Linked DNA regions of Homo sapiens. The protein of the gene in region 3 purifies or fractionates together with the protein of the main gene of each other region. This does not show direct contact. Each region holds a gene or a part of one and is shown on either strand. Other genes may lie near its edges. The genes, in order: PDGFB, FAM114A2, PDAP1, DIMT1 and LIN54.

Region 1 (6,059 bases), on a different chromosome or scaffold from region 3:
CAATGGCCGCGCTGGGCAGGCGGGAGCCACGGAGGGAGGGAGGGAGGGAGAGGGATGGGGGTGGGAGCTGAAGACAGAGAAGAGGAGAAGAGGGGTGGGAGTTGGGCCTGCTGGGGGTGGGGAGTCCCTGCCACACACCCTTCTAGGGCCTGGTCTCTCTAGCTCCGGGGCCCTCACACCGTATCTGTATCTGTGTCTGTCTCCCTCCCCTTCTCTAAACTGTTGCCCCACCTCTGCCCCCAGCCGTCTGTTGATTCCTCTGGTCACAAATGACAGCTCCCTTTTCTAGCCTGGGCACCATCTCAGTCCCATCAGCCCTCCTTGGAGACATCGGTCCTTTCCAGAGCCCATGGCCAGAGGTTGGCTGCTGGGAAGTGAGGGCTGAGGGAGGCCTCTGAGCTGGATGTTAAGGCGTGGACAGACCCTTCTGTCTCTCTCATGGGTGAGGAGCCACAAATAAACTAAGGGGCATTGGGAACACGCTCCTGCCACCTCCACACAGCACCCCATGGCTCCAGTTCTGGCACCGACCCACTGGCCCCATCCAAGACAAAGGCGCCTGCCGCCTGTCCGTCCCGGGTACTGCAGGGAGTCTGATGACTAGTCCGCTTCCGTCCAGCCTGACAGCCCCTACGTCAACGAGCCTATCTGTCCCTCTGGCTCCTTTCCTTTCTCCCTGCCATCTCTGGAATGTCCCTGGTGGGGAGGAGATGGGGAAAAGATGCGCTTTGTGGAAAGGTTAAGTTGATTAGGAAAAAATAGCCACATGGTTGCCTTGAAACAGGCCTGCTATTGAAACCTCATCTCCAAGATCCCGACCCCCACCAGGGGTGTGGAGGGGCCGTCTGAGGGTGGGGGTGTAAAGGCTTGGAAAGAAATGGTAGAAAGGCTAAATTTGGAAGTTGCCCCATTGTGTGTGGCCAGGGGCGGCCAGTCGGGCATAGGGTGGGGGTTGTGGGAGACATCGGGTGGGGGCCCTGGCGAACAATAGGTGGGCCCAGCTGGGGCCCCCTCCTGCCTGCCTCACCGCCCCCCAGCACAGGCGGGATTGAAAGGGCCCGGGAATGCTTTTGAGAGGGAGCCAGGGGCCCAACGGGGAGAGGAAACAAAGGCAGGAAATGCTGTTCCCCCGTAGATAGCGTCTGGGCAAGGATTACAAAGTGACAAAGAGACAGAACCCCAGAGGGAAGGGGACCTGGGGGTGCAGGGGGGCTGCTGACCAGGGCTCCAGGGAACAGGCCAGAGGTTAGAATAGAATGGAATTTGCTCTGAAGACAGCGTTTATAAATACATTGTCAATCCAGCCCGCCAGCCCCGCCACGTGTGTGCCACCGAGCACGTGCCCATTCGCTGAGTGAGCTCTGGGGCACGGGCAGGGCTGCCTGCTGGTCGAGGCCAGGTGTCCCCAGGGGACCTCACAGACCGGGCCCCTAGCCAGAGGGGCGGGGAGATGACTCCTCCAGTGCCACCCTCCCTGGCTGGGCCCACACCTGGAGACATACTCGGCAGATGCCCTGGGCACCTTCTCCCCGCCCTCCCTCCTCCTGGCACCCCACCCTTGGCACCAAGCCGGAGCCACACGTGGGTGCTTCTCCTGCCACACCCCAAGTCCCAGGTACCAACCCGCCTGCTGACTCGGCCCTGCCCTGGATGGGTGTGGCCACGCTCTCTCTGGGCTGCCATGGGCCTCTAGTTCTCCAGACGTCAAGAAGGAGGGATGCCTCCTGTCCTGCCCCTCCCAGATCTCTTAAAGTCTCCTCGGAGGGCCGGAGCGCGGGGCGAGGATTCCATTTACCTCCGGGGTCTCCGTGCAGCAGGCGTTGGAGATCATCAAAGGAGCGGATCGAGTGGTCACTCAGCATCTCATAAAGCTCCTCGGGAATGGGGTCCCCCTGCCGGGCAGACACCAAAAGGCTGAGTGAGCTGGGAGTGGGGGCTTTCCAGCATGGCTGTCTCCCCCACCACACGCTTTCTCGCTTTCTCCTGTGGAAAGCTCCAAGGTCACAGGGAGACGGACAGGCAGGATCCAGGCCTGATGATCAGGAGCACAAAGGCCTCGGGGCCTGGACCTGCCGAAGCCTCTGAGACCCAGCTCAGTCCCTGCACCCTCAACCCCCAACAGGAACCCCAGCTTGCTTTGAGTTGGACCTGCTTGTCTCTATGTCTGTCTCCCCCACCAAACTACATGTTCTGGGAATGCACCAAAATCTGATTTCTCCCTGAGTCTCACAACACACCTGACAGCTGAAGACAGCCAGCATCTCCCATGGCCAATCTAACCCCCATTTTACAGAGGGGAAAACAAACGTTCAAAGAGAGGCTCAATTATTGGCAAAAGCTGCATTCAAACCCATGCCTTTGGGATGACAGAGCCTGTACTCCCAGGCTCCTGGGTACAAGAGGTGCTTAATAAACGCGTGCAGAGTGCGATGGCCTCAGGAGGCCCCAGGTCCTAGCGGTATCTATGAAGTCTCTCACTCGAAAGAGGCGAAAAGGGAATCCTCGGACACGGCCGGGAAACCTGAAAGCTTACCCGTGCCCTGTGCCCAACCAAACCCTATTTTTAGAGCCCCTTTGGCCTGTTGCCAAACATACTCGAAACCTGATAACACTTCAACAGGCCTCATTCGGAGCTGGGCTTCCTCCAGGGAAACCGCAGGTCCCACAATGACACAAGAGCAGCCCCGTAGGAAGGTCACAGCCACGTCCCCCACAGTCCCAGGAGACCCAAGGGGCGGATGCCAGAGATCCCAAGAAAGAGGCGAGGGCAGATGGGAGACTGAGAATCACAATCCAGACCACCAGCCACTGAGAAGCAAAGAAAATTCCTAAGATGTCGCTGCACGTTCAAAGGCTGGAACCGGACTTCCACGTGTGCAAACACACACGTGCAGGCACAGGCACTCGGGCTGCACGGTCTGGACAGACAGTCCTGGAGAGGGCATCAATAGGCTTGGCACATTACTATAGAACCTTGGGTTAAACTATTTTCTGCCTCAGTTTCCCTGGATTAAGAAGGGAGGACTTCCCTTCTTGGTTCGCTCCACATTCCCGGAGCCGAAGGTCGGGGGGCTCAGAGGGGGTCGGTGCAGGCTACCTTCACAAAAGGGATGCTGCTTTCTCGCTGCCTGACGGCGGAGGGGGAGCGAGGGAGAGGAGAAGAGGTCGTCTCAGCCCTGTGGCCAGCCTCAGGGGGCTCTCCCCGAAAGCTCTGTTTCCTCCAGCTTATCATGAGGTCTAGCAACACCTCCAGGGGTTCATCCATGACCAACTCTGGCCACCCACATCGATCCAGGAGCCAGAAGACTCAGGGCGGGGGGTGGGGGTGACCACTTTTAAAGCTACATCATTCCCTGAAACCCCTGAGTCTCCATGTCTTTGTTTGAACATGGAGCTTACAACTCCGCCCAATGTCTAAGGGCTGCTGGGCAACTTGAGGAAAAAAAGGTGGCAGGGCTTGGCTGAGAACTAGGGTCTTTCCTTCAATATCCGGGCAGCCAGGGGCTGCACGTGCAAGACAGAGGAGGGTATGGGCCCCGCTGCCCCTCACTTTCGGCCCCATCTCCTCCGGGCTCTGCCTCCTCCCGCCCTCAAGCAAGTTCATTCTTTCCACCTCAGAAGAGAGACCACGCCTCCGGTGCTCTCCAAATGTTGACAAAGTACCCAACCCACAGAACAGAGGGCTTGGTCTCCAGTGAACACCAGCGAAAGCCGCTTCCCCTGAGAGTTCTGTCAAACCCAGAACTGGCAGGCCAGAGAGCTGAATCCCACGCCTTTGGACCAACTGCCGTGTGACCTCGGCTGGTCACTGCCCCTATGGTCCTGGCTCTCATCTGTGAATCGAGGGGCTTGAAGAACATTCGATTCAATTCTAATTCTGCCAGGAGGCGTTAGAAGGGGCAGAGAAAACGCCAAAGCCGGGTGCCTAGCCAGGCCTCCCTGGATCACTGGCAGAAGGAGAACAAGAAGCGTTTGTGGAGTAAAGATTCAATTAACCCCCCAGGGGAGGGGCCCAAAGGCCTAGTAGCAAATGGCATTTAGTGCTTGTGCCAAGATCTCCCTGCCCACTGGAGAGCCGGCTGCAGCTGCCAGCCACGGCAGAGGAGGCAGACCCCTGAACAGGCCGAGTGGACACCCCAGATCCAGGCCCACGACACATAGGAGATGCCCCTCCAAGGCTGAGTGTGAAAGAGCCCAGGATAGGGTCTGAGGAGGAGAGAGAGGCACATAGTAGGTCCTCGGTAAATACTGGTCAAATGCATGAAGGAGTCTACCATTTTCCAGGTTCTGTCCAGTATGATTCTTCTGCCTCCTCCACCAGGAGGGCCACCTGGGATATTCTTCCCCAACCCTAGGCAAATGAGCAACTAGAGTCCCTTTTAATCTGAGCAGGGAGACCGTCCCTGAAGATGCTTTTGGTAATGTGGCCACTAGATGCCCAGAACTACCCATAAGCCCCCGGATTTGGTAATAATACCACAACTAACATCTATGAATGCCAGCTACAAGCCACACGCTGAGAAAAACACCGTATAAACTACCAATCCTAAGAGGCTGGCAGTATTTGTATCCCCATCCTCCAGATGAGAACACTGAAGCTTAGAAAAAATTAAACAAGCAGCAACAGGTCCAGACAATTAGCAAGTGGCAGAGCTGGGTCGTTCCCAGGCTCCAGACTGCCCACCTGTTCCAGCCCACCATGGGGCGTCTCAGCCTCCCTCTCCTGTGTTCTAAGGCCACTGGCCCTCAGCATCACACAAGGTTCGTGTTGGCTCTTTACTCTGCAGCATGTCCCACGTCAGAGGCTCTCAACCAGGGCCCAGTGGGCCCCCAGGGGACAGTGGCAATGTATGAAGGCATCGCTGGTGGCCACAACTTGGGGTGTGCACTGCATCTTAAGTTGGGGGAGGCCGGGGATGCCGCTCACCACCCTTCAGGGCACAGGACGGCCTTCCCAAACATCAGGAGTGCAGAGGCTGAGAAACCCTGTAGCGGAGGAAAGAGCAAGGGCTCCAGATGCCAGGGCAACCTGGATTCTTGGAATCTTGTCACAATCTAAAACCTCGGCTTCTGCATCTTTTAAATGGGGCTAATAATACCTCGCCCGGGGTTACTGGGAGGCATAATTGCACAGAGCAGAGCTGCCAGCAGATAATGGGAGCTTAATGAGTTGTCACTGTCATCATCATTAATTCTTTCCGGATGGCTCCTTTGTGGGCAGCAGCGAGTGGCACACGTGCTCAGGGCCAGCAGCACAGGACATTTTTGAGGATGACAAGGAGTGGGTGGAGAGCTGCCTGCCCATGAAAGAGTGCGTGACTTTGCATTATCCCTTGTGCTGGGCCACAGGAAATGGTACCCTACCTCCACACTGGCAGAGCCTGGGCCGTGTGGGCTTACAAGGCCCTTCCGGGGCTGGGGGTGGGTGAGGGTGGGGGGACACTCAGCACGTGCTCAGCTCCAGGATGCAATGCTCTGGGGATGACGAGCATGAGCACCTGTTGGGAGTCACAGGCTCTTCTTGGTATGGGAAGGTGAGCCGCCCGGAGCCTGGTTTTCCTGGGCACAGGTTCCGCAGGCCTCCAGGTGGACAGCTCACTTCAGAGATGGGAAAGGAGGCCTGGCACCCTGAAGAAGCTGTCCCAAGATCTCAGGCCCGGGGTTTCTGGCAGAGTGAGGGCGTGGCGAGGAGGCAGCTGGGGCAAAGCCAGCCGTGGGAGCCAAGGTAAACAGCCTCCTCCGACCCCGCCCCCAGCGCCAGCTGCAGCAGGTAGGAAGGGCACGAGCGAGCGTGAGGCCAGGTGAGTGATCTGCTCCCAACCAGGCTGGCAGATCAAAGGGGCTTGAACCCCACCCTCCTCCTGGGCCCAGCACACACACACAGATACACACTCCCCGGCCCGCCTGCCATTCCCACCAAGGGACACACAGGCCCAAGCAACCAGGGGCGTTGTCTGTGGCTGGCAGAGGAAGAAGCTGATGAGGCCTCCCAGAGCCTGCCTGCCTGAGAGTCGCAGGCCTTATTTAGATCGAATGCCAAAGCCAACCAACCCCTTTGA
Region 2 (6,822 bases), on a different chromosome or scaffold from region 3:
AGCCATATTGATGTAGATATGACAGAAATAGTGTATATTTGATGTGTATTCCTTCCTTATTAATTAGAAAGCATACAGTTGAAGCTGCAGGGTACTGGAAGAAGCAGTAGATTGTCATTACTTAGTACTAATCCTTGACAGCTTAATGGACGGTTCACAGTAATGAAACACCTTCTGAATACCAGCTGGTAAACATGAAGGGCTGAAAATTATAAACAGGTAAGCACTGCTTCCTAATTTAGGACTAAAGTTTATGCAGAGGTTTGTTACAAAACAAAACATGTTGTCATTTCCTTGCCAGGAAATCATGCTTTGTTTTGTCAGAAAGGTAGTGTTTACATTATCCTCATCATTCCATTAGATTTGAGAAGGTAGATGGTTTAAGTCAATGGAAAAGAGGATCCTGTGACTGATTATATTACCTCCCTATGTGATGTTTTCTGGATTCCATGTTTTAAGAACTCTACCTTGTAAACTAACTGTGCAGACAACATAGACTTTTTGATGATTTGTTTAAAACATGTTTATGTAAGTCTGGGGGGAGAAAATATATTTGATAGTTAAGTTTTAGATGTTAATTGAAAAAATGTTTTAACTACCAAACTCTTACTTCTCTAGTTTTAAATTCTTTTGACATTACCATCAAGGAAATGATTTTAATTCTTTAATTACACAGTTTTAATCAAGTAGTCAGGGAAACTATTTTGATCATTGTAATAATTTTTAAAAATATAAGTTTGTGATTTAGTAAATGGCAGAGTGGTGCAGTAGAAAAGACTTTGTAAACCAGGAGCCCCGTGTTGCCCTGGATCTTCCTTGATTTGTTGTGTGACTCTGACAAACTTCGTTATTTTCATGTGCAACATAAGAGATTTAACTAGACGATATCTGAGGTCCCTTTTGTGTGGGAAATTGAGTATTAAATGTCACACTGAATTTTAAATAGTACTTGCCATTGATAAATTTTAAAAAGGTAATATCACTTGATATGGGCTCCCTATTATTTTTAGTGGATTTTTTTTTTGGATACAGATTTGAAACACTCTTGTCTTCGAAATTATACATTTTTATCTTAATGAGCTCTCTGTTGATATTCTTTTGAAAGGTGAGGGCTTTTCAGTATAAATGAAGTCCAGCAAACTGAGGGTAATGATTCTCTAACACTTCTGAAAAATGTTGTTCAAGATAGAAATATATCTATACTGTCATCTTTGAAAGCAGTATATGTGTGAAAGATGTTTATGTGTGTGAGCAGTTATTGTGCTCACTGATCGCATTGAGTCCATGGAAAAAGAGCTATCATAATGGGCTAGAAATTCTATAGGTGTAGGATTTATAGCCTTCTGAAAGCCTCTTTCAGTAATTGACCACAATATTGTGACAGAATCTACCCTACTCAATAAAGGAATAAATAAGCTTTGAATGCCAAGTCTGACCATGTTGCCAAAGAAAAGCTACCATGTCTGATGGGCAAGTTGTACAAAATGCTGACATTCTCTTTTGGTGCTCATATCATCTTAAGAGCTAAATTCTTCTCCCTATAATAGAGTTTACCAAAATGGCCAAGTCACTGCTCTTACTTGCCAGGCTATGAATTCAGTTAGATTACAAAAATTAATCTGTTCCCCTGTTGCCTTACAGTATATCTTCTCTTTTAAATAACTAATATTTTCTTTTTCTTGTTTTTTCAATCCTGGCAGGCATCAAACAGTGCCTCCTACATCCAGGACGCCTTTCAGCTACTCTTACCTGTGCTAGAGATCTCTCTCATTGAGAACAAGATTGAATCACACAGACATGAGCTGCAGGGCCAGAAACCTTTGTTAGAACATTGAAGAATGGAGACGTTTTGACCTGGGACTTGTGACGGCCAAGGAATGCCACCTTATTCTGGCTACTCCTGCAGAAATGAAGGAGTGGGGTTATTTTAGTATATAAAAATTCAGGCAGGAGAGATGGTTTAAAGAGGAAGATTGTTGCCTTCAGTGTTTGATTGAAGTATTCAGGTTCTCACAGTATTCTTTCCAGTTGTTGTAATTCATAAATTATTTGAAAAGAAACTTTTGTAGAAAGTCCAAGAATAATAACTCTAGATAAAGATTAGTGGGACACTCAGGCAAAAATGTTGGTCTTTCTTTGACATGTTGCAAAATGTTATCAATTTTGTCATGGATATAATTTGCAGCCCATGGATATAACTGGTTGATAAGCCAGAGAAAAATAATTTAGTGTTCTAAAATTCATGGCATGTGTGGTTTATTAATGCCATGTACTTTCTCCTTTCTGGAATAAAATCTATGGCTTTAAGAAAACTGAGCATATGTAAACTCTGTGATGATTACCCTTTATCACATGAATTCTTGGAAATAGAAAGTTTCATCTGCTTTTTTAAATTCTTAGTAGATATTTGGCATTGAGGAGAAACTTGTAGACTATTATAGCCATGTGAATTAACTGTAGCAAAGTGCCCTTTTTCTTCAAATTGCTCCCCCTCCCCAGGATGACACACTTCATGTCATAGCTGAACCCTACTCTACTGGATTCAAGGCCAGTAAATGCAATTTAGAGAAGCAGTTTTATGTTTGCAGATATTCTGAGTCTCTTCAGGATGTGTTTCGTGTCTACCATATATGCAGGATAAATTCTTTAACAGCAAACTCCAAAGGAATGTTGAAGCTGTTTTAGCAATGAGGATTTTTTTGTTTGAGTGTTGAAGTGGGCCATAGTCCTTTAGAAATGATGTTCATTTATGATAGGATTTAACTTCTAAGGCATAGTTTATTTTTTCCTCTTTCCTTTTTGTTTGTTTTAATGTATTCTTTAGCATGTTTTTGATATAACTTTTATCCTCCAGATCTTAAGCTTTCTTTTGCTCTCTTCAGCAATTTAAGAGACTATTAAGCTGTCGTCTTCCTAAAAGCTATTTTGGTATCCACTCTTTTTAAAAAAATTCTCCAACTTTGTGGTTTTTTAATGATTAAGGTAATTTGTTAGCTCTGCCCCTCATCTTCTAAAACCTTTGTAATAAAATGTATTAATCATGTTATTTGATCCTTTCATTTACTTTTGTAAACACGAGCCCTAATATCTTACTTAGACCAAAAAAAAAAAAAAAAAATAGCAAAGCAAAGCCATAACATAGATTAGTATAAAGACTGTTTCTACGTAATCTTCTTTGGGGCAGGAGTCAGTTAGTAAGCAAGGAAGAGAAATAAATTTGGTTTAAAAAGGTATACCAACAGCACTACAATGTTACTCTGCCTATATTCTGTCTTAATATGATCAGAAAGTTTTTGAATATTCCTTTTTAAAGACAAATTTCACCCTTTCCAGCTTGAATATTTCTGAAGTTTCAGAAAAACAGTTGCCTTCTGGTTACAAAGGCTGGTGTCACCAGTTCTGAATTGTTGCCTCAAGCTTGGTTGATGTGTCTGAACCTGTATCCCTTGAGGGCAAAGTTTAGAAACTGGTCACTCTGCCTACTGTCTGTTCAGCCTCTTGTACAATGGCAGTTTGGCAGCTTTAAATCCTTAACCTAGAAATGTATTTAAGGTTTTTCTTTCAAGAAATGGGGTATACATATGAAGGAGAGAGTAACAACTCTTTTTATACACCTATTCAGATTTCAGCCCTGAATTTGGCAAATTTTAGATTAGGTCTCACATAAGGTAAATATGACTCACTAACTCTTTTTTTCTCATCTTCCCCACCCCCCCATATATATTTATTTATTTTAATGGAGTTAGGGACCACTAGTGAAATGATGAAAGGCCCAATTCTGAGTAACAATTGTCTACTCTTCACATAAAATATACTGAAAAAGAATTAAGATTCCTTGATCCAGTAGACATAGAGAAACATAAACATTCATGACAGATGAGTAGGTAAATTCAGGGATCACTTTGGAACTTGCTGGATTATGGTGATGGTTTTTGGATAGTATGTGCTTCATTATTTTATTTGGGGTAGTTACAGTGTTTTAGTTTTTTGTTAACAGCTACACTTTTGGTACTATTTTCCTTTTAAATTTTTGGTGTCTAAGATTTACCACTAATTACTAATATATGCCTTTCCAATTCACTTAAAACCTTAATAAGTGAAATGTTCAGGTATTGCTAGGGTAAATGTGTCTTTTCCTACTATTGAGATTTTAAAAGGCTGTGATTAAGAGAGACTTTATTAATTTGATCTGAAAGAAGTAGAAACCTCTATGAAACAATTTTTATTTTCCTTTGCATAATACCTTAGAAATGTGTTAAGGACAAGCTATATTTTCCTTACTTGCTTTTGATAGTTTTTTTTTTTTTTTTTAAGCATAGATATCCAGGTTGGCAGGCCTCTGAAATGTGAAATTGTAATTTTTATAGATGGCATTACTATGAATCTGAAATCAGTGCTAGGTGTACAAATGTGAATTTTTCAATCCTGTAATCAAAGAACAAGATCTTGTGGGTTCCTACTGCTGAAAAAGGATGCTTTCTTTTGTACTTGTTTTTAGTGAAAGACCTTTTTGAGGGAGAGCTATTTTATAGGTAGTTGCTATTGATATCTCCATTTGAGAAATAGACATTTTTCTGTATTTCTAGAGGTGTTCTGAATTTTAAACCTGAATTCTTCAGTTTAGAAAACCCAGAATAAAATTATACCCACAGTGGGCACTCAACAAGTGTGATATTTCACAAATGTCAGAGACTGAGCTGTTTTATTATCTCTTTGTGTGTGTGTGTGTGTGTGTGTGTGTGTGTGATGGAGTTTCACTCTTGTTGCCCAGGCTGGAGTGCAGTGGCGTGATCTCGGCTCACCGCAACCTCTGCCTCCTGGGTTCAAGTGATTGTCCTGCCTCAGCCTCCCGAGTAGCTGGGATTACAGGTGTGTGCCACCACACCTGGCTAATTTTGTATTTTTAGTAGAGACAGGGTTTTTCCATGTTGGTCAGGCTGGTCTGGAACTTCTGACCTCAGATGATGCCACCTGCCTCGGCCTCCCAAAGTGCTGGGATTACAGGCGTGAGCCACTGTGCCTGGCCCTTTTATTATTTCTTAACAACACATGATATCTCTTTTCATAAAAGACTTAAAAAGCATTTGAGAAATGAGAAAGTTCTAAAAATAATAAGCCTCTTAGTTAACATGTCATAAAGGCCTCTGGCAACTGTATGAAGAGAATTTTGAAAACTTGCCCACTGGTCTGACTCTCTGAGTATATCCTTGATGTTCCTCAAACACTAGTTCATTCGGTCCTCCCTACTTAACTTGAAGCCCATCCTTCCCTGTTACTGTATCGTCCAGCCAAATCCCAAAGGCCCTTCATGTTTAATTATCATTTCCCCAGGCAAGTCCTAAAGACAATTTTTTTAAAAATCTGAATATTCTCTCAACTCATTTGTCCTTTGAGCTAAAAGCAAAGAAAGATTCATTATAGCTGTCACTTCACCCTCACAAGTCAATGTTGAACTTACCAGACATTTAAGTGTCTGACTGGCCTACCCTTATAAGAACAGATACAGAAACTGCAAATTGAGTGAAACCATCATCTATTTCTACTTGTGTCAGTCCCACATTTGTCTCTTTCTGTATACATTAGCCATTCTGTGCTCTCAAGTGAGTTATAAAGCTGTTCTGTATAGTGGAAATAGGTGATCAAAGTATGGTTTCACAAATCACATAGGTTATTTCCATAGAGAATGTTGTAGCTTCACAATGCTTAAAGAGGGGGAGAATAATGAGCACAAACCTCACAGGGAATATACTGTATAGAAGAGGTATGTTAACCATATAGTAAGTGAGTTCCAAAATTATTAAAAGTCTAGTTGCTCAATTAGGATAGGAGCAGACCTCTGTGGAGAGTAAGTCTAGTTAATGTTTGAGATACACCTTTCTACAAGTGGTTTTAGGTGGAAGCTGGGTTGACCACAGTGGAGACACATGCGACAGGTGAGGTCCCTCTAGGGCCAGTCTTCAGAGATTAGCATGAAGGCTACAGGGTGTCATCCTGTCACAGGATGACAGAGCACAGAGTCTGAGCTCTCTGTGTTTGGAGAGGTGGCTGACGAGTGTAGCTCTGCCTAAGCTCTCCTGGTGTCTGTTAAACTCTTGAGTGTATATGTATTTTTGAAGTCCAGTAGTTGAGGTCGGTAACTTGGTAATTCGCATATGGGGAGTCTGATAAGGTTTAATGTAACAGTCCCAAGGGGAGGGGGGCTCACACCAAGTTCTCACATATGGAATCTGATAAAGCGTCATACTCTTGAAGGGAGGGGGGATTTCACTCCAAAACATCAAATGGTGTAAAAAGCTACATTACAAAAGAAGTCATTTTCCCAACTTGACTGTGAATGTACCAATATGTTTAATTTTTTAAAGCGCATTTGTAAGTTGGAATGGAGGTAGTTTGCTACAGAGTTTCTACCAGCCATCCTCACCTGGCTAACTGTTGCAGTGACCTTGGCAGTTTCAGCCAAACCTGTTTAAACCTGAAGTGTCTACATAATTTCTGTAGCTGCTTATGTCGGAATTGTAGGACTTCTCTTAAGTGTTCATTACAACTGGGTCTTCCTTTACTTCTCATTGGCATATCATTGAGAGCAATAGAAACTGCAAAATTAGCTTGTATGTTCAAGCAAACATTCAAAATAAGAATTGAATAGTATGCAGTTATAGTATTCAGTAAATCAACAAACACTTAAGTACTTTTTTTTCTGCATTTATATTGCTTACCATTGAGTTCCCAGCTTCTGACATAGGGTCTGGCATGTAGTAGGAAATGTTTGTTGACTGACTGAAAGAAAAGGAAAAAATAAAAGAAGAAAAGGAAGGAGGAGGC
Region 3 (6,059 bases):
TAGCTGATGGACTGGACTTGTAACCCAAGAATAAGCTACTGGATCACACACTCTACAGGTTTGGGACGCTGGCCCAAAAACCTGGAATCTGCACCTTCCACCTCCCCTGCAGAAGTTCCAGAAGAAGGGGGTGTGTTCTCAATGCAGCAGGTTTGGTCAAAGTTTCAGGCCCTGTCAATTCCATCAATTCTCCTTAAGGGGGCAGGGAGACAGCTTCCACTCCACAGAGCTCCCTCCACACACTTCCAGTCCAGCTGCACACTTACACCTCCACTCAGATGCCTGGCACTGTAAACTTAACATGTCCAAGACAGAACTCGAGATTCATCCTTTACCCAACCGGACCCTCCCTGCAATCCTAAGCATATCCTTGATTCGTCGTTCCTTCAGCAACCCCCAAATACAGCTTAAATTTGTCCACTCTTCTCCACTGCCATTGTCACCATCCTAGGGCAAGCCACGATTTTTTTTCTTTTGAGACAGAGTTTCCCTCTTCTTGCCCAGGCTGGAGGGCAATGGCACAATCTCGGCTCACCACAACCTCGGTCTCCTGGGTTCAAGCAATTCTCCTGCCTCAGCCTGAGTATTTGGGATTACAGGCATGAACCACCACCCCCGACTAATTTTGTATTTTTAGTAGAGACAGGTTTTCTCCATGTTGGTCAGGCTGGTCTCGAAATCTCGACCTCAGGTGATCCGCCCGCCTTGGCCTCCCAAAGTGCTGGGATTACAGGTGTGAGCCACCACACCCGGCCCAGGATTTCTGATCTGAACACTGCTCTTACTCTCAACATCCTATCATTCACTCTCCATGAAGAAGCTAAAATAATCTTTTTTTTTTTTTTTTGAGACGGAGTCTCACTCTGTCGCCCAGGCTGGAGTGCAGTGGCATAGTCTTGGCTCACTGCACTCCGCCTCCCGGGTTCACGCCATTCTCCTGCCTCAGCCTCCCAAGTAGCTGGGACTACAGGCGCCTGCCACCACACCTGGCTAATTTTTGTATTTTTAGTAGAGACGGGGTTTCACTGTGTTAGCCAGGATGGTCTCGATCTCCTGACCTTGTGATCCACCCACCTTGGCTTCCCAAAGTAAAATAATCTTTTAAAAGCATATCTGGAGGCTGGGCGCAGTGGCTCACGCCTGTAATCCCAGCCCTTTGAGAGGCCAAGGCAGGCAGATCACGAGGTCAGGAGATTGAGACCATCCTGGCTGACATGGTGAAACGCTACCTCTACGGTAGTCCCAGCTATTCGGAAGGCTGAGGCAGAAGAATGGCCTGAACCCGGGAGGCGGAGCTTGCAGTGAGCCGAGATCGCACCACTGCACTCCAGCCTGGGCGACAGAGAGACTCCATCTCCCAAAAAAAAAAAAAAAAAAAAGCATATCTGGTCATGTCTCTCAATCCCTTCAAGGCCTCCCCCAGCTGCCACTACCTACCATAAAGAAACCCCATGCCAGGCATGGTGGCTCATGCTGCTGCAATCTCAACACCTCAGGAGGGTGAAGTGGGAGGATTACTTGAGCCCAGGAGTTGGAGACCACCTGGGCAATATAGTGAGATCCCTATCTCTACAAAAAATTTAAAAATTAGGTAGATGTGGTGGCGTGTGCCTTTGGTCCCAGCTACTTGGAAGGCTGAGGCTGCGGTGCTTCACTGCAGCTTCACTCCACTCCAGCCTGGGTGACAGAACGAGACCCTGTCTCAAAAAAAAAAAAAAAAAAAAAAAAAGGGGGCTGGGCTAGTGGCTCACGCTTATAATCCCAGTACTTTGGGAGGCTGATGCGGGTGGATCACGAGGTCAGGAGATGGAGACCATTCTGGCTAACACAGTGAAACCCTGTCTCTACTAAAAATACAAAAAATTAGCCCGGCGTGGTGGCAGGCGCCTGTAGTCCCAGCTACTCAGGAGGCTGGGGCAGAAGCGCTTGAACCTGGGAGGCGGAAGTTGCAGTGAGCTGAGATCGTGCCACTGCACTCCAGCCTCAGTGACAAAGCGACACTTCATCTCAAAAAAAAAAAAAAAAAAGAAAAGAAAAGAAAAGAAATGCCAACCCCTTCAACAGCTACACAGGAGGTGCCCTTGCCAATTCTCCTCCTGCATCTGGACCACTCCGCTCCTTACCCACTAACTCACAGCTACACTGGCCCCCTTCTGGTCCTTGAACATGCCAAGCTTATTCCCACCACAGGACCTTTGCACTTGCTAATCCAGTTTCTCAATTGCTCTGCACGCCAATTTTCACATAGCTGGCTGCATCTTGTTTTTTCAGATCTCAGTTTATAAGTTGCTTCACCACCACAACACTTTTCCAAGTCCCCTCAATCACAGTCTGTTTTGTTAGTAACACTTCTCATTACTTGAAATGACACTGTCTGTTTACTTCTTTGTTGTATCTCCCGTAGTGTAAACCCTCAAGAGCAAGGACGTTGTCTGCATCTACCTTTGGGACTAGTACTAAACGGTCACTCAACGTTTGTTTGTTGAATGAATGAGTCCAGGCTCTAGGCCCTCAAAAGAACTCAGTACCTGGTAGTCATCTTCTTCATCCTCACTCTCATCTGAGTCTAGAGATTTCTTCTCCTTTTTGGGGTCACCTGCAGCCCCATCTCCACCTTCTTTTTGCTCCTCTTCTTCCTGTTTCAGAAATGGACAACCTGCAGAATCAAAAATGCAAAACAAATCCCCAAGACTGTGACCCTATCACCCCCCAGACTGTGGATCTTGAGAAATCAAGCCTCTGGAAGGCTGGAACCAAGGATGACAAGGGTCCTACTGTGACCCTGGCCCCCAGGGAATGGGACCTGGGCCAGACACAGGCAGCCTATGCACTTAGCACCACAGCTTAGAGGCCATTCCCATAGTCCAGGAAGCCCCTCACACAGCCACAGAAGGCCCTGCTCCCCTTCCTAACGCAGCCACCTCAGCAGCCAGGGTGAGAAGCTTGTTTCCTGGGGTCAGAAGGACTCAGCCACCAGGCTGAAAACCACCATCCTACTCAGCTCCCACCTGCCACATGCAGCTGCCAAATCATGCTGGCATTCCCAGGCGAGTCCTCTCCGCACTCCACTCCCACTCCATGGCAAGTCATCCCCCCGACCCACCCACACAGGTGACCTCCTGCACCAGCTCCCCAGAACAACACCTCGGAAGGCTGCTTCCCTCCACCTTTCTTGCCTTCCCACCAAAAATGTCCCTTATAGGAACCTCATGTCCCTTCACCTCTTGGCACCTGCCCACACATTCTCCATGTCCTGCTCAGCTGCTGGCTCCCCCAAGGACCCCTCCCAGACCCCACAGCTGGATGTGGCCTTTCCCTTCTTGAGACTCCTGGGGTACGTCACAGCTGTGTACCCATCTGGCCCTGACTGCTCCCTTAGGCCCTTGATCCAGGCATCAATCTAATGATATGGTAAGATGCAGATGCTGACGATGGGAATGTATTCTATTTCCTAACGGTGGCCTGGACAATGTACTATGGGAGCAGAGGAGAGGGAACTACTAAATCAGCTCTGGCTGGAGGTGAGGCATGAGTCACAGAGGAGGAGAGGCTAAACAACGTCTCCAGGGATGGAGAGCATGCTGATGCTGGGGGTGTGGGAAGGCAGGGCATATGTCATGTGCAGTGTGGCAAATCATCCTGTGTGGCTGCAGCAGACAAGCAGGGGTGCTGGGAGCTCGAGCTGTGAATGGACAGGTCCTGCAGGAGGGAGATCCTCCTGAAAGTAGGTGCACAAGACCAAGAACAGGGCCCCACTAAAGCAGCTGCTGCAGAGCAGCCACAGTTCTTTCTAACCCATCCAGGCAGAGGATGCCCACGCCCTGACTGTCATTGGTTGTTCTGAGACTCACACCTGGGGCTCACTGCCCGCCCGACCCCCACGTGCTGGCTTGTCCCTGCGAATGGGTAGTCCTTGCCTGGCCTCTCTATGAACCAAATTGGCAAAGCGCCACCCTGGGCCACTGGCGTGGCCTGGACAGGCACGTACTCACCCTGGCCTTCTGCTTCTCAGCCTGCAGCTGCGCGTCGATCTCCTCAGGGCTTGTATACTGCCTCGCCCGGCCTTTGTGGCCTCCCTTTCTTCCTGCAGAGACCCGCAGTTTAGGTGAGCGGAAGCAGCTGCCTTGACTGCTCTGACCCCCAGAGGGCTGTGTCCTGCTTGGAGTACTCTCATCGGAGGCCTCACCTACCCCTCACCCAGCACCACCCAAACCGACACCTCCGCCACCCTCATGTGTTCAAAGGCACGCAGGAAGCAACTCGTGACCATCTGATGCATCACCAAACTGTGTACTAAATGCTGGCTCCTACACAGAAGACCGGAGGGGAGAACATGGCGGACGGTGCACTGCAATGACTTGCTACATCCCCTGGTCCCTTACAATCCAAGCATAGTGGACTCAGATGCAACCACAGAAACATGTACCACTTACATCCCTGCCGTCACTATAAGGGCTTTTTACACGATGTTCTGTCACAGCCAGGGGCACTTTTTTTTTTTTTTTTTTGAGACGGAGTCTCGCTCTGTCACCCAAGCTGGAGTGCAGTGGCGCAATCTCGGCTCACCGCAACCTCCACCACCCTGGTTGAAGTGATTCTCCTGCCTCAGCCTCCCGAGTAGCTGGGACTACAGGCGTGCACCACTATGCCCAGCTTATTTATTTATTTTTAGTAGAGATGGGGTTTAACCATGTTGGTTGGCTAGAATGGTCTTGATCTCTTGACCTCGTGATCTGCCCACCTCAGCCTCCCAAAGTGCTGGGATTACAGGTGTGAGCCACCGCGCCCAGCCAGCCAGGGGCACAGTTGATCCTCGGAACAAACCTATGGTACAGGGGTGATAGCTGGTCCCATTTCATAGACCAGGAGACTTAGACCAAAGCAGACTGCGAAACACCACGAAGTTTAGAGTCCAACTCCCAGGTTCTACGCTTACTGGCTTGATGACTTTGGGCAGGTATTTAACCTCTCAGTCTCAGTTTCCTCATCTGTGTCCCTACCTTACAGGGTTGTCACAAAGATAGATGAATTAATCAATATACAGAAAGCTGCTGGAACAGTGCCTGCTACTGAATAAGCACTACAAAAATGTTCGCTAATATCCAGGCACAGTGGCTGATGCCTGTAATCCCAGCACTTTGGGAGGCCAAGGCGGGCAGATCACTTGAGGCCAGTTCAAGACCAGCCTGGTCAACATGGTGAAACCCCCTCACTACTAAAAATACAAAAATTAGCTGGGCATGGTGTCACATGTTTGTAATCCCAGCTACTTGGGAGGCTGAGAAAGGAGAATCGCTTGAACCCAGGAGGCAGAGGTTGCAGTAGCCGAGATTGAGCCACTGCACTCCAGCCTGGGCCACAGAGCGAGACTCCGTCTCAAAAAAATAAAAAAATCGCTGTTCGTTACTTTTCCCTCTAATCTAGTATTTGGTGGAAAAACAACAACAAAAGCACCACTGAGCACATAAGCAATTTACTGCAGATGTTGGAAACACAATAAAATACCTTGTGTTCACCTTAGTAGTATGGCAAAAAGAGAATACTTAAGGGAAAAAAAAGAAACCCAAACCTACAGGCAAAAACTTTGTGCTTAGACTAAGAAATGACTGGCAAAGTACAGATGAAAACAAACCTGACTACACAGTCTAAAAGTTAAAAATGTGACTAGCAGTTAAAGTGTCAGTTTTATAGTCTGACCCTCTTCAGCCAGAACACCAGGCTGACCCTTGCTTAAGCCATCAGCCAGTTTTAAAGCAAGGTGGCATCCCCCTCTGCTGGTCCCCAAGTATGCAAGGGTGGCTGTGGCCTCAACTTCCACACAGGAAGCTGAGGCCCACCTGATTTCCATAGTCTGTCTCTGTGAGCAGAGACTCTGTAATCAGCCAGAGTTGCTCTGCACTCCAGAGGCGGTAGCAGAGATACTGGCCTCCTCTGATTCCTTACAGCAGCTGCAAAGCCATAATTGGGCTGCTAAAGATCACACCACCCATTTTTAATGACTACCTAGGTTCCCAGGGGTGTCTAAGTCTATGCTTATTAAAGTCCTATTGTGAGAGAGC
Region 4 (6,059 bases), on a different chromosome or scaffold from region 3:
ACTTCTTGTTCTTGTCTATGCCCACTAGGTATTATTTTGTCTTTTAATATATACAATTGAAGGAAACTTTCTGAAGTGAAGAAAATGTTCTGTAATCTTGATCTGGCTGGCACACACATGCAAAAGTAAGACATACATTTGATTTTTGCACTTTGGCGCATTTCACTGAATATGTCTTTTCCTCAGAATTTTTTTTTGACAAAGCATGACAATTTTTTTTTTTAATTTGAAAAAATAAAGCCAGGCACAGTGCTGCATGCCTGTAGTACCAGCTACTCAGGAGGCTGAGGTGGGAGGATCGCTTGAGACCAAAAGTTCAAGTCCAGCCTAGGCAACATAGTGAAACCCCATCTTAAAAAAAGAAAGGGAAGGAAAAACAAAATGGTCCCACATCTGAACAAAGAACATGGCGTTTATTTAAATCTAAGTATCATTTTCAAAAATAAGATTCAAAACAGACATGACTTCAGATACTTCCTGTGTAACACACCTAAACCTCCTTGAAGGAGTTATTGACAAACCACTCCATTTACCACCAGTTGACCACACACACAATCACGTTTTTCTCTAATGTGGCTGTAGTAAGGTTTTATATCAAGTGGTCTTCTTTCTTGTTTTTAAATCTCAAAAAACAATTACAATGAAAAGATGTTACCCATAATACTACTTTAAAACAACTATTTTCATTTTACCTTGTTTTCCTAGTTTTATTCCATTTTTTCTTTTTTTTTTTTGAGACTGGGTCTCACTTCAAAACTACCTTGCATCAAATTATTCCATCTACTTCAGCACAGGGATGTGTCCTAATTAACATTTTCCTATGTTTGAATATTTAGGTTGATTCAATATTTTTCTGCTGTTATAGGCACACATCTTCCCGCCTGGACTTTTTTTTCCTTTATTGAATGAGCTAGTATTTTAACCTCACCTGAAAATTGATGGGTGGTGGTGGATTCTTAGGTTCTATCCTTACAACACTGGATTCCACCTTGGGCGGTGGTCTGAAGTTATTCTTTCCCACCTGTTAATGAAAAAGTATTTAAGTAGTACTCACAAAGGCAACTTTTATTTAGTAACCAGATATGCTATCCTCACAGAAGGCACAACTGGATGCTCAAGGATGAATTAAGCTAGATTATTTCAATAATAAAAATCACTGGCTGGGTGCTTTGGCTCACACCTGTAATCCCAACACTTTGGGAGGCCAAGGCAGATGGATCATTGAGCCCAGGAGTTCAAGACCAACCTGGGCAACATAGCAAAACTCTGTGTCTACAAAAAATACCAAAAAATTAGTCAGGCGTGGTGACGCACACCTCTAGTCCCAGCTACTCGGGACTCGAGAAGATTGCTTGAGTATGGGAGGCAGAGATCGCAGTGAGCCACTGCACTGCAGCCTGGGTGACAGAGTGAGATTCTATCTCAGAAAAAAGAGAAAGAAAACAAAATTCACTTACTTTCATTAGATGGTCCACACGTGCCAACAGCTGTGTATTAATTGAGAGTCTGCAGTATAACTTATCTCCAGGTTTTGCAACCAGTCGGAGGGCAAATTCTCTTTGAAACATAAGTATAGCACACCTGAAAAGAAAGCAGAAAGGAATAAGGAAAATGGTCATTGTCAACTATAAATGAATTTTAACTGCAATGAATTTTCTTGGGAGAGAAATAGCAAAGCATTGGCAGCTGATTATAAGGTAGGAGAACACATTCAGCCTTTTTTTTATTGCCACAGAATGAGAGAGCTGGCTTTGTTTTTATAATTGCTGTACTCCTCATGGCAAGATAGCTTGCAAATATAAGCCTTTAATGACTGGATGAGATGTTTCAAATCAGCACTAGTCCATCACCTCTTCTATGAAAACAAAGTGAAATAAAATTGTTTCAGTAGCAGTAATATATTTATGGGGTAGCAAACACCTTTAAGGAAGAGGTGAGACTGAAGAGGCAGATTGTGACGTTCAATGTTTCCTTGATTTGACGGGTTAAAAGATGTAGACTTTTTTTTTTTTTTTGAGACGGAGTTTCGCTCTTGTCGCCCAGGCTGGAGTGCAATGGCGCAATCTCGGCTCACTACAACTTCCGTCTCCCAGGTTCAAGTGATCCTCGTTCCTCAGCCTCCCGAGTAGCTGGGATTACAGGCGCACACTACCACCCCTGGCCAATTTTTCTATTTTTAGTAGAGACAGTGTTTCACCATGTTGGCCAGGCTGGTCTGGAACTCCTGACCTCAGGTGATCCGCCCACCTCAGCCTCCCAAAGTGCTGGGATTACAGGCATGAGTCACCACACCCAGCCAAAAGATGTAGACTTTTTATTCAGCAGGCAATGGGGAAGACTTTGTAGGGGTTAACGAACAGAAGAGTATCTTCAAAGCTACACTTTGACATTCAAACTTTTGACAATGAGTCACACTAAAAATACATTTGGCATTGCAAGCCAAGCCACAAATGTCTGTATGTATATGTGTTTATATTGTATTTCAAAACAAAAGTTTCATGAAACCATAATCACCTGGACTACATGCAATGCCCTGTGATATATTCTATTCCATGTGATTACAAAAAAAAAGAATGGTCATGACTCATTAATTTTATAACCACTAGTTTTTGACTTGCAGTTTGAAAGCCACTAGTATATAATATAGAAAGTGACTTCAAAGTTCATGGAAATATTGAATTAAAAGATAAAATAAGGCTGGTGTGGCGGCACACACCTATAATCCACAGCACTTTAGGAGGCCAAGGCGGACAGATCGCTTGAGCTCAGGAGTTCAAGACCAGCCTGGGCTGAACATGGTGAGACCCCTTCTCTAAAAAAAACACAAAAATTAGCTAGGCATGCTGGTACACCCCCATAGTCCCAGCTACTCAAGAGGCTGAGGTAGGAGAATCATCTGAGCCCAGCCCAGGGAGGCTGAGGTTGCAGTGACCTGAGATGTCACCACTGTACTCCAGCCTGTCTCAGAAAAAGAAAAAAAAGAAAAAACATAAACTTTATTATTCAACATAAGCTCCATCAAGTTCAAGACACTTTTGTAAGTGATGATACCAGCATTTTAGTCTATATCAAAAAAACTGAGGCTCTGGGGAATTTAGCCATGTCACTGCAGGTTTTTTTTTTTTACATTATTAACTGAAGAAAAAAGAGTGCCCTTTCAAGATTTTTTAAGACTGGGAAACGAAAATAAATCAGAAGGGCTGGGCACCATGGTTCATGCCTGTAATAATCCCAGCATTTGGGGAGGCTGAGGTGGGCAGATCACTTGAGCTCAGGAGGGGGAGACAGCCTGGGCAACATGGCAAGACCCATCTCTAAAAAAAATACAACAATTAGCTGGGTGTGGTGGCACATGCCCGTAATCGCAGCTACTTGGGAGGCTGAGGTGGGAGGAATGCTTGAGCCCAGGAAGTGGAGGCTGCAGTGAGTGCAGATCATACCACTGCTCTCCAGCCCGGGCACCAGAGCAAGACTGTCTCATAAAATAAAAAGAAGTCAGAAGGGGCCCAATCAGGACTGTAAGGTGGATACCTAACCATTTCCCATTGAAACTCTCGAAAAATTGCCCTCGTCTGATGAGAGGAAGGAGTAGAAGTATTATGGTGGAGGAATCTCTGGGGAAGCTTTCCCAGGAGTTACTCTGCTACATCTTAGCTAACTTTCTCAAAACACTCTTGTAATAAGCAGATGTTTTCATTCTTTGGTCCTAAAGAAAGTCAGCAAGCAAAATGCCCTGAGCATTCAAAAAAAAACTGTTGCTATGACCTTTGCTCTTGACTGGTCTGCTTTTGCTTTGACTGGAGCCACTCCGTTTCTTGGTAGGCATCACTTTCACTCTGCTTTGTCTTTAGGATCACACTGGTAAAGCCATATTTCATCTCCATTACAATTCTTTGTAATTCTTTGAAGAAATGTTTCAGGATCTTGTTTTCTTTTTTGACAATCTCGCTCTGTTGCCCAGGCTGGAGTGTGGAGTGCAGTGGCACAATCTTGGCTCACTACAACCTCCGCCTCCTGAGTTCAAGCGATTCCCCTGCCTCAGCCTCCCGAGTAGCTGGGATTATAGGTGCCCACCACAATGCCCAGCTAATTTTTTTATTTTTAGTAGAGATGGGGTTTCACCATGTTAGCCAGGCTGGTCTCCTGACCTCAAGTGATCTGCCCGCCTCGGCCTCCCAGAGTGCTAGGATTATAGGTGTGAGCCACTCCACCCAGCCATGTTTCAGGATCTTGATCCCAGTTATGTAAAATTTCCACTGGAAGCTCTGCTTTTATCTGCAGCTGATTTGAGTACAATGTTTTTTGTTTTGTTTTTTCATAAAATCTTTCAGAAAAGAGGGTATGACAGTTTTGGCATCTATCAAGTACAAAGTTTGTTTAACTTTGATTTTGCAGTCAGAATTGTGTAAGCTAAACCAACTGTGATGTCTATGGTGTTGGCTATTGTTTGTGCTGTTGAATGTTGTTCCTCGTCACTTAGGGAACAAACAAGATGAATGTTTTCCCACAAATTGATATGGCCAGTGTGCCACTGTAGGCTTCATCTTCAACATTGTCTCAGCCCTTCTTAAAATGAGTTATCCATTAGTAAACTGCTGATTTCTTTGGGATATTGTCCCCATAAACTTTTTTTTTTTTTTGAGACGGAGTCTCGCTCAGTCGCCAAGGCTGGAGTGCAGTGGCGCGATCTCGGCTCACTGCAAGCTCCGCCTCCCGGGTTCACGCCATTCTCCTGCCTCAGCCTCCCGAGTGGCTGGGACTACAGGCGCCCGCCACTACGCCCGGCTAGTTTTTTGTATTTTTAGTAGATGTGGGGTTTCACCATGTTAGCCAGGATGGTCTCGATCTCCTGACCTCATGATCCGCCTGCCTTGGCCTCCCAAAGTGCTGGGATTACAGGTGTGACTCCATAAACTTTTTGTAAAGCATCAATGATTTCACCATTCTTCCAACCAGGTTTCACCATAAATTGGATGTTTGTTCTTACTTGAATTTTAGCAGAGTTCATGTTGCTCTGATAGGGGCTCTTTTCAAACTGATGTCTTATCCTTCTCAGTGCCTCACACTAGATCCTGCTCAGTTAGTACAGAGTTTATTTTGGTGCAAAAAAATTTTGAAATCCATGCAAGTTTTTTTCATAATACACATTTTCCATGAACTTTTTGAAGACCTCTTATACTAGAGACCAGTTAGGAAACCACTGCAATTGTCTAGACATAAGGTAATAAAAATTCTAACCTAGACTTAACGGCAGGAAGATTCAAAAATAGGGAAAGGCTGTCTGGTCTCAGAAGCAGGACTTCCAGCACACTACCCCCAAATAACCTCTCAATTAAAGAGAGAAAGACCTCCATACAAATCAACATTTTCTACAAAAATTCTTCAGTAGTTTTTCAACTGACCTGACTCATTTTTGGCTATGTTCACCACCTGAACTGTAAGTCTTTCAAAATTTGGCAGTAACTCTAGTCTTTTGTCACAAACCTGAAAAAAGGTCGATGTAGCAACAGCTTGAAGACAAAAGGTGAAGAGATCTGTAAGAGAATTAACTAGTTATTTCCGGGAAAGACACATCAGAGGAACAGTTAGTATGATGTTCCTGAAAATGTGAGGACATACCTGATAAGGCAAATTTGCCACACAAGTATCAAAGAATGGCAAATCTGTTTTCAGCACATCACCCACCAGTACTTGAAGTTTGCTGGCCACAGGCCTGATGAGAAAAGAAGAAATGTAAAAAGAATGTTGTTTCATGAGATTGAAATGCACTTTAATTCTATTATGTATACTCACGTGCCCTGAACTCTTTTGTGAAGTTCAGCTACTAGCCTTGGGTCAAGTTCACAAGCAACAACCTAATTTAAAAAAAATAAAAATTATTTAGGTTAATTATGGAATATAAATCTTTTATTGTTATCCCAACAGGAACTCTTACATGATTTATGTGACAAACTTCTTCTCCCATTTCTACCATCAATATTCCTTTAATTATACTCGCATACTTCAAACAACAAACAAAAATGGGCCGGGTGCAGTGGCTCACGCCTGTAATCCCAGCA
Region 5 (6,059 bases), on a different chromosome or scaffold from region 3:
TGGCTTATGCTTGTAATCCCAGCACTTTTGAGAGGCCAAGGCAGGTGGATTGCTTGTGTCCAGGAGTTTGAGACCAGCCTGGGCTACATGGCAAAGCCCCATCTCTACAAAAAAAATACAAAAATTGGCCAGGTGTGGTGGTTTGCATCTGTAGTCCCAGCTACTTGGGAGGCTGACGTGGGAGGAGCATTTGAGCTTGGGGGGTCAAGGCTGCAGTGGAGCACCCACTGCACTCCAGACTGGGTGACAGAGAGACCTGTCTCAAAAACAAAACAAAACAAAACAGAAAAGTAACAATAAAACAAGTTATAAGAATTAGACCCCAGTCTTTTTTTTATTGTCATTACTTAGGGAGTTAAAGTAGAGAAATAATAGATACAAGCAACACTGGTCATTGAAATGTCACATATACCTTGCTCTCATAAATGAAAAAAATGACATTCTAATTTATGATATCTTTTCCTTTTTTAGTTTATTTTTATTTTTTTGAGACAGGGTTTTCCTGTAGCCCAGGCTGAGGTGCAGTGATGCGACCACAGCTCACAGCAGCCTAGACCTCCCCGGCTCAAGCGACCCTCTCACCTCAGCCTCCTGAGTACCTGGGACCGCAAGTGTGCGCCACCATGCTGGGCTAATTTTTTGTATTTTTGGTAGAAACAGGGTTTCACTATGTTGCCCAGGCTGGTCTCGAACTCCTGGCCTCACAGAATCTGCCCACCTTGGCCTCCCAAAGTGTTGGGCTTACAGGTTCGTGAGCCACCACACCTGGCATCAGTTTCTTTTGAACATAATTATGATCCATATTGCCAAAGCCAAATAAACTTTGGTAAACCAATAAAAACAAGCTTCAAAACTGAGGACAAGATGCTTGATGGTGATAAGATATCTCATCCAAGAGATTCTTGGCAAAAATAAGAAGTAAAAGGAAGTCATAGATAAGTGAGAAGTAATAATGAACAAGAAAGAGCACTAAATGTTTAATAATGGCAAAGGGGACAGAGGCAAATTATAAGATTTAAGAAATTCTACAAAGTTCTTAAATGCAAAGCCCATGAAAAGTGGTTTCTAATTCTACTGTCAAAACAGTAACCAAAACATTACTCTAATATCAGCTGAGTGTAGTCTCCCAAAACCTTCCTACTTCCTTCTTATGCATTTCCTATTATTTCTATGCATTCAAAGACAACTCTTTCAAACAGAGGATACATTTTTGTTTCCTGGTCATAAGTATATCACTGCATTTCTTGTTTTTTTTTTTTTTTTTGAGATGGAGTTTCGCTCTTGTCACCCAGGCTGGAGTGCAATGGCGCGATCTCGGCTCACTGCAACCTCTGCCTCCCGGGTTCAACCGATTCTCCTGTCTCAGCCTCCTGAGTAGCTGGGATTATAGGCACTCGCCACCATGCCTGGCTAATTTTTTGTATTTTTAGTAGAGATGAGGTTTCACCATGTTGGGCAGGCTAGTCTCAAACTCCTGACCTCAGGTGATCCGCCCACCTCAGCCTGCCAAAGTGCTGGGTGGGATTACAGGCTTAAGCCACCACGCCCCGCCGATCACTGCATTTCCAAGAGTAGTGGTGGCCTAAGAAAGCCTATTTGGGCATGATAAACTGGAAATCACTTAATATATATTCCAGTAACCTTCTTTCTTAGGGTCCTATTCATACTAATAATAGGTACCATTATGAAACATCCTCAATATTTTGAGAATTATACTACACATTTCATCTTGATCAAAAAGTATTCTTAAGATAAAGTCAAAAACTCAGAGAAGATAAGTAACCTACGAAAGTTTTCCATAACTGGTAGGATAAGATAGAGGCAACTCAAGCCCAGTTGGTACAACTCTAAAGCCTGTATGTTATCTTCCATCACATGTCACTGTCTTTTCCATAGTACAAACATGAATAATGGCAATGAACAGTAAACTCCAAATAAAAGGCACACGCTGGCTGACACGCACTATTACTGGCTCTGAGGGTTTCTCAGAGCAACAAAGTTCTCCTAGCCTTTGGCCATCTGTGAACTGAAAAAAAAAAATGTTGTCTACATGATTTTTTTGATAGCCCAGCAGCAAGTCTGGCATATTTATACCAGCAAAACATCCTTGTAATCAAACTACCACTAAGAATAAAATGCATTTTAAAATTAGTAAAAGGCTATAAATATACTAATTTGGAATTTAACCAAAATTAAGTTTGCTTTCTAAGTTATCTGGTAAAAATTTTCATAAGCATTAGACATATCAAACTTAAAAACACACACACACAATTACATAAAACAACATTCAAAAGAATTCAGTAACAACTATGTATTTAGTAACCCTATAAACACAACTATGAATCAGTTAAATTTTTTTAAACATGCATTTTAATTAGTAAGCCCCCTTTTTTCTTTTACCTGTACTGTTTTTAACTGTTGGGTCTGTAACACAGAGGGCTGAGTTGTAGTATTAATCAGTTGACTTCCTGGGGTCAATGCTGAGACACCAATGACAGGTTTCACCTCTGGCCTCCCTCCAATGGTAACTACTTTAATTTGCTGCGGTGGTAACTTAGCATCTCCTGACTGGGCCTGAGTTGTAACTTTCTGAGCCTGGGGTAGTTGGCTATGGGGTAGTGCTAAAACAATTGGTGAACCAGACTTGCCCAAAGTTGTTAAAATTAACTTCTGTCCATCTGGTTTAAGGGTCTGATTGCCAAGTTTAAGATCAGATGTCTGTGATACTTTGTTTAAAATAATCTGATTGGCTGATATAGTCACAGGAGTCTGAGCACCAAGTTTTTGAAGGCCACTTGGAAAAGCTGGTTTCACTGTGGTATTAGAATCTGCTTTAGTAATTGTGGTATTCACTGCAACTTGGTTAGTGTGGTTACTGTACACTGTGATTGGTTCCGTGGAAATGGGCGTGGCTGTAGAGTCACCAGTAGAATTTATGTTGACAATTTCTTCCAGTTCTGTCTCCATGGGAATTGGGGATGAAACAATAACAGCCTCAATACTATCATCATCCACTAAAGTTATACCAGTGTCCATTATTTCCTCTGGAAGCAAACTATTCACCTCAGCTGGCACCACCTCCATGATCGTTCTCCCGCTAGAAAGTTGATCAGGCACTGTAATAAAAGTTGAAAAATGAACAAGTTACTAGGTTTCAAAAGATGTAAGAAAAAAATTCAAAAAAAATGCAAATGGCAAAATGACAATTTTTAAATTGATATATAATTGAATGAAGAATATTCCTGAAGCTTATCTGGGTTAAATCATGTTAACACATCCTCAACCTGCAAGAATCTATAATATAAGTCATATGGGAACACAAAACTAGAAGCAAACATTCTTACTCTCGTCTCAATCCACAAGTATCTTGCACTCAGGCAACACTAAGTCACATAATCACATGAAACTCCTTTCCAACGCCCTCTAATAAAATTTGTAATCTTTGATGTATCTGATCTTATTTCTACCCAGATTTTTTTCCTCTCATTGACAGACTTGAAAACTGCTGATTCACACAAGGAAATAAAGATTTAAATATTAACATATTGTAAAATACATTCAAATCTCCAATGAGCTACGTCCTAATATGAGTGTACTATCCCATTTTAAAAATCCATTAAATACCCAAATTAAAGTTAAAGGAGTTTCTAGAGTAATACATCTCAGCAATTGCAGATCAAATAGCATTTGTGGTACAACTTTGACCAACTAGCTTCATACCAGGGAAATTTTTATTTGGAAAGAAGATTCTCAAACCCTCCTTGGCCATTTACTTACTTACTTAATTAATTAATTATTGAGACGGAGTCTCACTCTGTTGCCAAGGCTGAAGTGCAGTGGCACAATCTCAGCTCACTGCAACCTCCGCTTCCTGGGTTCAAGCAATTCTCCTGCCTCAGCCTCCTGAGTAGCTGGAATTACAGGCGCCTGCCACCAAGCCGGGCTAATTTTTGTACTTTTAGTAGAGACAGGGTTTTGCCATGTTGGCCAGGCTGGTCTCGAACTCCTAACCTCGGGTGATCCACCTGCCTCGGCCTCCCAAAGTACTGGGATTACAGGCGTGAGCCACCGTGCCTGGCCATCCTCCGCCATTTAAAGTGTCAAAAAGAACCATTTAAGAGATGTACAGCCAATCCCCATGAAGAAAAAAAGTAATAATCATAAAGCAGATTACGAAAAACTTTGAGCTGTGGTACTTTTAGCCAAAGGTCTGTAGAACTTCCAATAAAGGAATCAATTTTATTATCTTCATGTATAAAAGACAGCACATCATGTTTATGACAGACTAAATAGCAGTGAGTTATTTGCCCAGAGAACATCAAAGATCCATAGGAACCAAATCAGCAACTTTCTTCTCTTCCTTTTCGTTTTTGAGACAGAGTCTCGCTCTTGTTACCCAGGCTGGAGTGCAGTGGCGCAATCTCGGCTCACCGCAACCTCCACCTCCCAGGTTCAAGCGATTCTCCTGCCTCAGCCTCCCAAGTAGCTGGGATTACAGGCATGTGCCACCACGCCCAGCTAATTTTTTGTATTTTTAGTAGAGACAAGGTTTCTCCATGTTGGTCAGGCTGGTCTCAAACTCCCAACCTCAGGTGATCTGCCCACGCTGGCCTCCCAAAGTGCTGGGATTATAGGTGTGAGCCACCATGCCCGGCCCCCTTTTTTTAAATATAAAAATACACCACCCCGGCTGGGCATTCTGGCAGATCACGAGGTAGGCAGATCACAAGGTCAAGAGATGGAGACGATCCTGGCCAACATGGTGAAACCCCGTCTCAACTAAAAATACAAAAATTAGCTGGGCATGGTGGCATGCACCTATAGTCCCAGCTACTCAGGAGGCTGAGGCAGAAGAATCACTTGAACCTGGGAGGCAGAGGTTGCAATGAGCCGAGATCGTGCCACTGCACTTGAGCCGGGCGACAGAGCGAGACCCCATCTCAAAAAAAAAAAAAAAAAAAAAAAAGATACAACACCCATCCAAAATTAACACACAAGTAGCAAATTACAACTATTAGCATTGGCAAATACTACTACCACCAAAATAAACCATCATTATTGAGTGCTTACAACACTGATGACGTAATTTAATTTATCCTCACAACAACTCAGAAATGGGAATCATCATTATCCCTGTTTTATAGATGAGGCCATTTAGAAAGGTTAATTTGCCTAAGGTCACATAGCTAGTAAATGGTAGAGCCAGGACTCCAGCTCAGGTTTTTAATATGCCACAGTTAATTATCTTGGCTGGGCACACTGGCTCTTACCTGTAATCCCAGCACTTTGGGAGGCCGAGGTGGGCAGATCACCTGAGGTCAGGTGTTCGAGACCAGCCTGGCCAACATGGCAAAACCCCATCTCTACTAAAAATACAAAAATTAGCTAGGCGTGGTGGTGGGTGCTTGTAATTCCAGCTACTCAGAAGGCTGAAGCACAATAATCGCTTGAAGCCGGGAGGCGGAGGTTGCAGTGAGCCAAGATCGTGCCACTGCACTCCAGCCTGGGCAACAGAGTGAGACTTTGTCTCAAAAATTTTTTTAAAAAGATGCCACAGTTAATAACCTTAATCCCAAAATTATACTCCCTTAAATGTTGCCATTGGTGTTTTAAAACAGGGAAAAAATAAGTCTACTTTTCTAAGAAAAAAACAAAAAACAAAAAACAAACGGGATACATGTGCAGAACATGCAGGTTTGTTACACAGGTATACGTGTGCCATGGTGGTTTGCTACACCTGTTGACCCCACCTCTAAGTTCCCTCCCCTTGACCCCAACCCCCCACCAGAACATAATGTGTGTTGTTCCCCTCTCTGTGTCCATGTGTTCTCAATTCTTCAACTCCCACTTATAAGTGAGAACATGCAGTGTTTGGTTTTCTGTTCCTGTGTTAGTTTGCTGAGAATGATGGCTTCCAGTTTCATCCATGTCTCTGCAGAGGACATGATCTCATTCCTTTTTATGGCTGCATAGTATTCCATGGTGTATAAGTGCCAAATTTTATTTATCCAGTCTATCACTGATGGGCATTTGGGTTGGTTCCATGTCTTTGCTATTGT

What was found.
Region 1: the proteins of PDAP1 (region 3) and PDGFB purify together in Homo sapiens (co-purification; one study listed by BioGRID). This does not show direct contact.
Region 2: the proteins of PDAP1 (region 3) and FAM114A2 fractionate together in Homo sapiens (co-fractionation; one large-scale study listed by BioGRID). This does not show direct contact.
Region 4: the proteins of PDAP1 (region 3) and DIMT1 purify together in Homo sapiens (affinity purification with mass spectrometry; one large-scale study listed by BioGRID and IntAct). This does not show direct contact.
Region 5: the proteins of PDAP1 (region 3) and LIN54 purify together in Homo sapiens (co-immunoprecipitation; one large-scale study listed by IntAct). This does not show direct contact.

What each region holds. Positions count from the first base shown.
Region 1 is NC_000022.11:39,233,983-39,240,041, forward strand, and holds part of PDGFB (platelet-derived growth factor subunit B isoform 1 preproprotein), read right to left. Parts: intron 1,893-6,059; coding exon 1,796-1,892; intron 1-1,795. UniProt on the Homo sapiens protein: Growth factor that plays an essential role in the regulation of embryonic development, cell proliferation, cell migration, survival and chemotaxis. Potent mitogen for cells of mesenchymal origin.
Region 2 is NC_000005.10:153,987,989-153,994,810, reverse strand, and holds the end of FAM114A2 (protein FAM114A2), read left to right. Parts: intron 1-1,700; coding exon 1,701-1,835; 3' UTR 1,836-4,663; downstream 4,664-6,822.
Region 3 is NC_000007.14:99,400,870-99,406,928, forward strand, and holds part of PDAP1 (28 kDa heat- and acid-stable phosphoprotein), read right to left. Parts: intron 4,085-6,059; coding exon 3,993-4,084; intron 2,637-3,992; coding exon 2,529-2,636; intron 1-2,528. UniProt on the Homo sapiens protein: Enhances PDGFA-stimulated cell growth in fibroblasts, but inhibits the mitogenic effect of PDGFB.
Region 4 is NC_000005.10:62,393,027-62,399,085, forward strand, and holds part of DIMT1 (dimethyladenosine transferase), read right to left. Parts: intron 5,856-6,059; coding exon 5,794-5,855; intron 5,714-5,793; coding exon 5,620-5,713; intron 5,535-5,619; coding exon 5,485-5,534; exon of another isoform or gene 5,403-5,484; intron 1,582-5,402; coding exon 1,458-1,581; intron 1,022-1,457; coding exon 929-1,021; intron 1-928. UniProt on the Homo sapiens protein: Specifically dimethylates two adjacent adenosines in the loop of a conserved hairpin near the 3'-end of 18S rRNA in the 40S particle.
Region 5 is NC_000004.12:82,981,761-82,987,819, forward strand, and holds part of LIN54 (protein lin-54 homolog), read right to left. Parts: intron 3,117-6,059; 5' UTR 3,085-3,116; coding exon 2,401-3,084; intron 1-2,400. UniProt on the Homo sapiens protein: Component of the DREAM complex, a multiprotein complex that can both act as a transcription activator or repressor depending on the context. In G0 phase, the complex binds to more than 800 promoters and is required for repression of E2F target genes.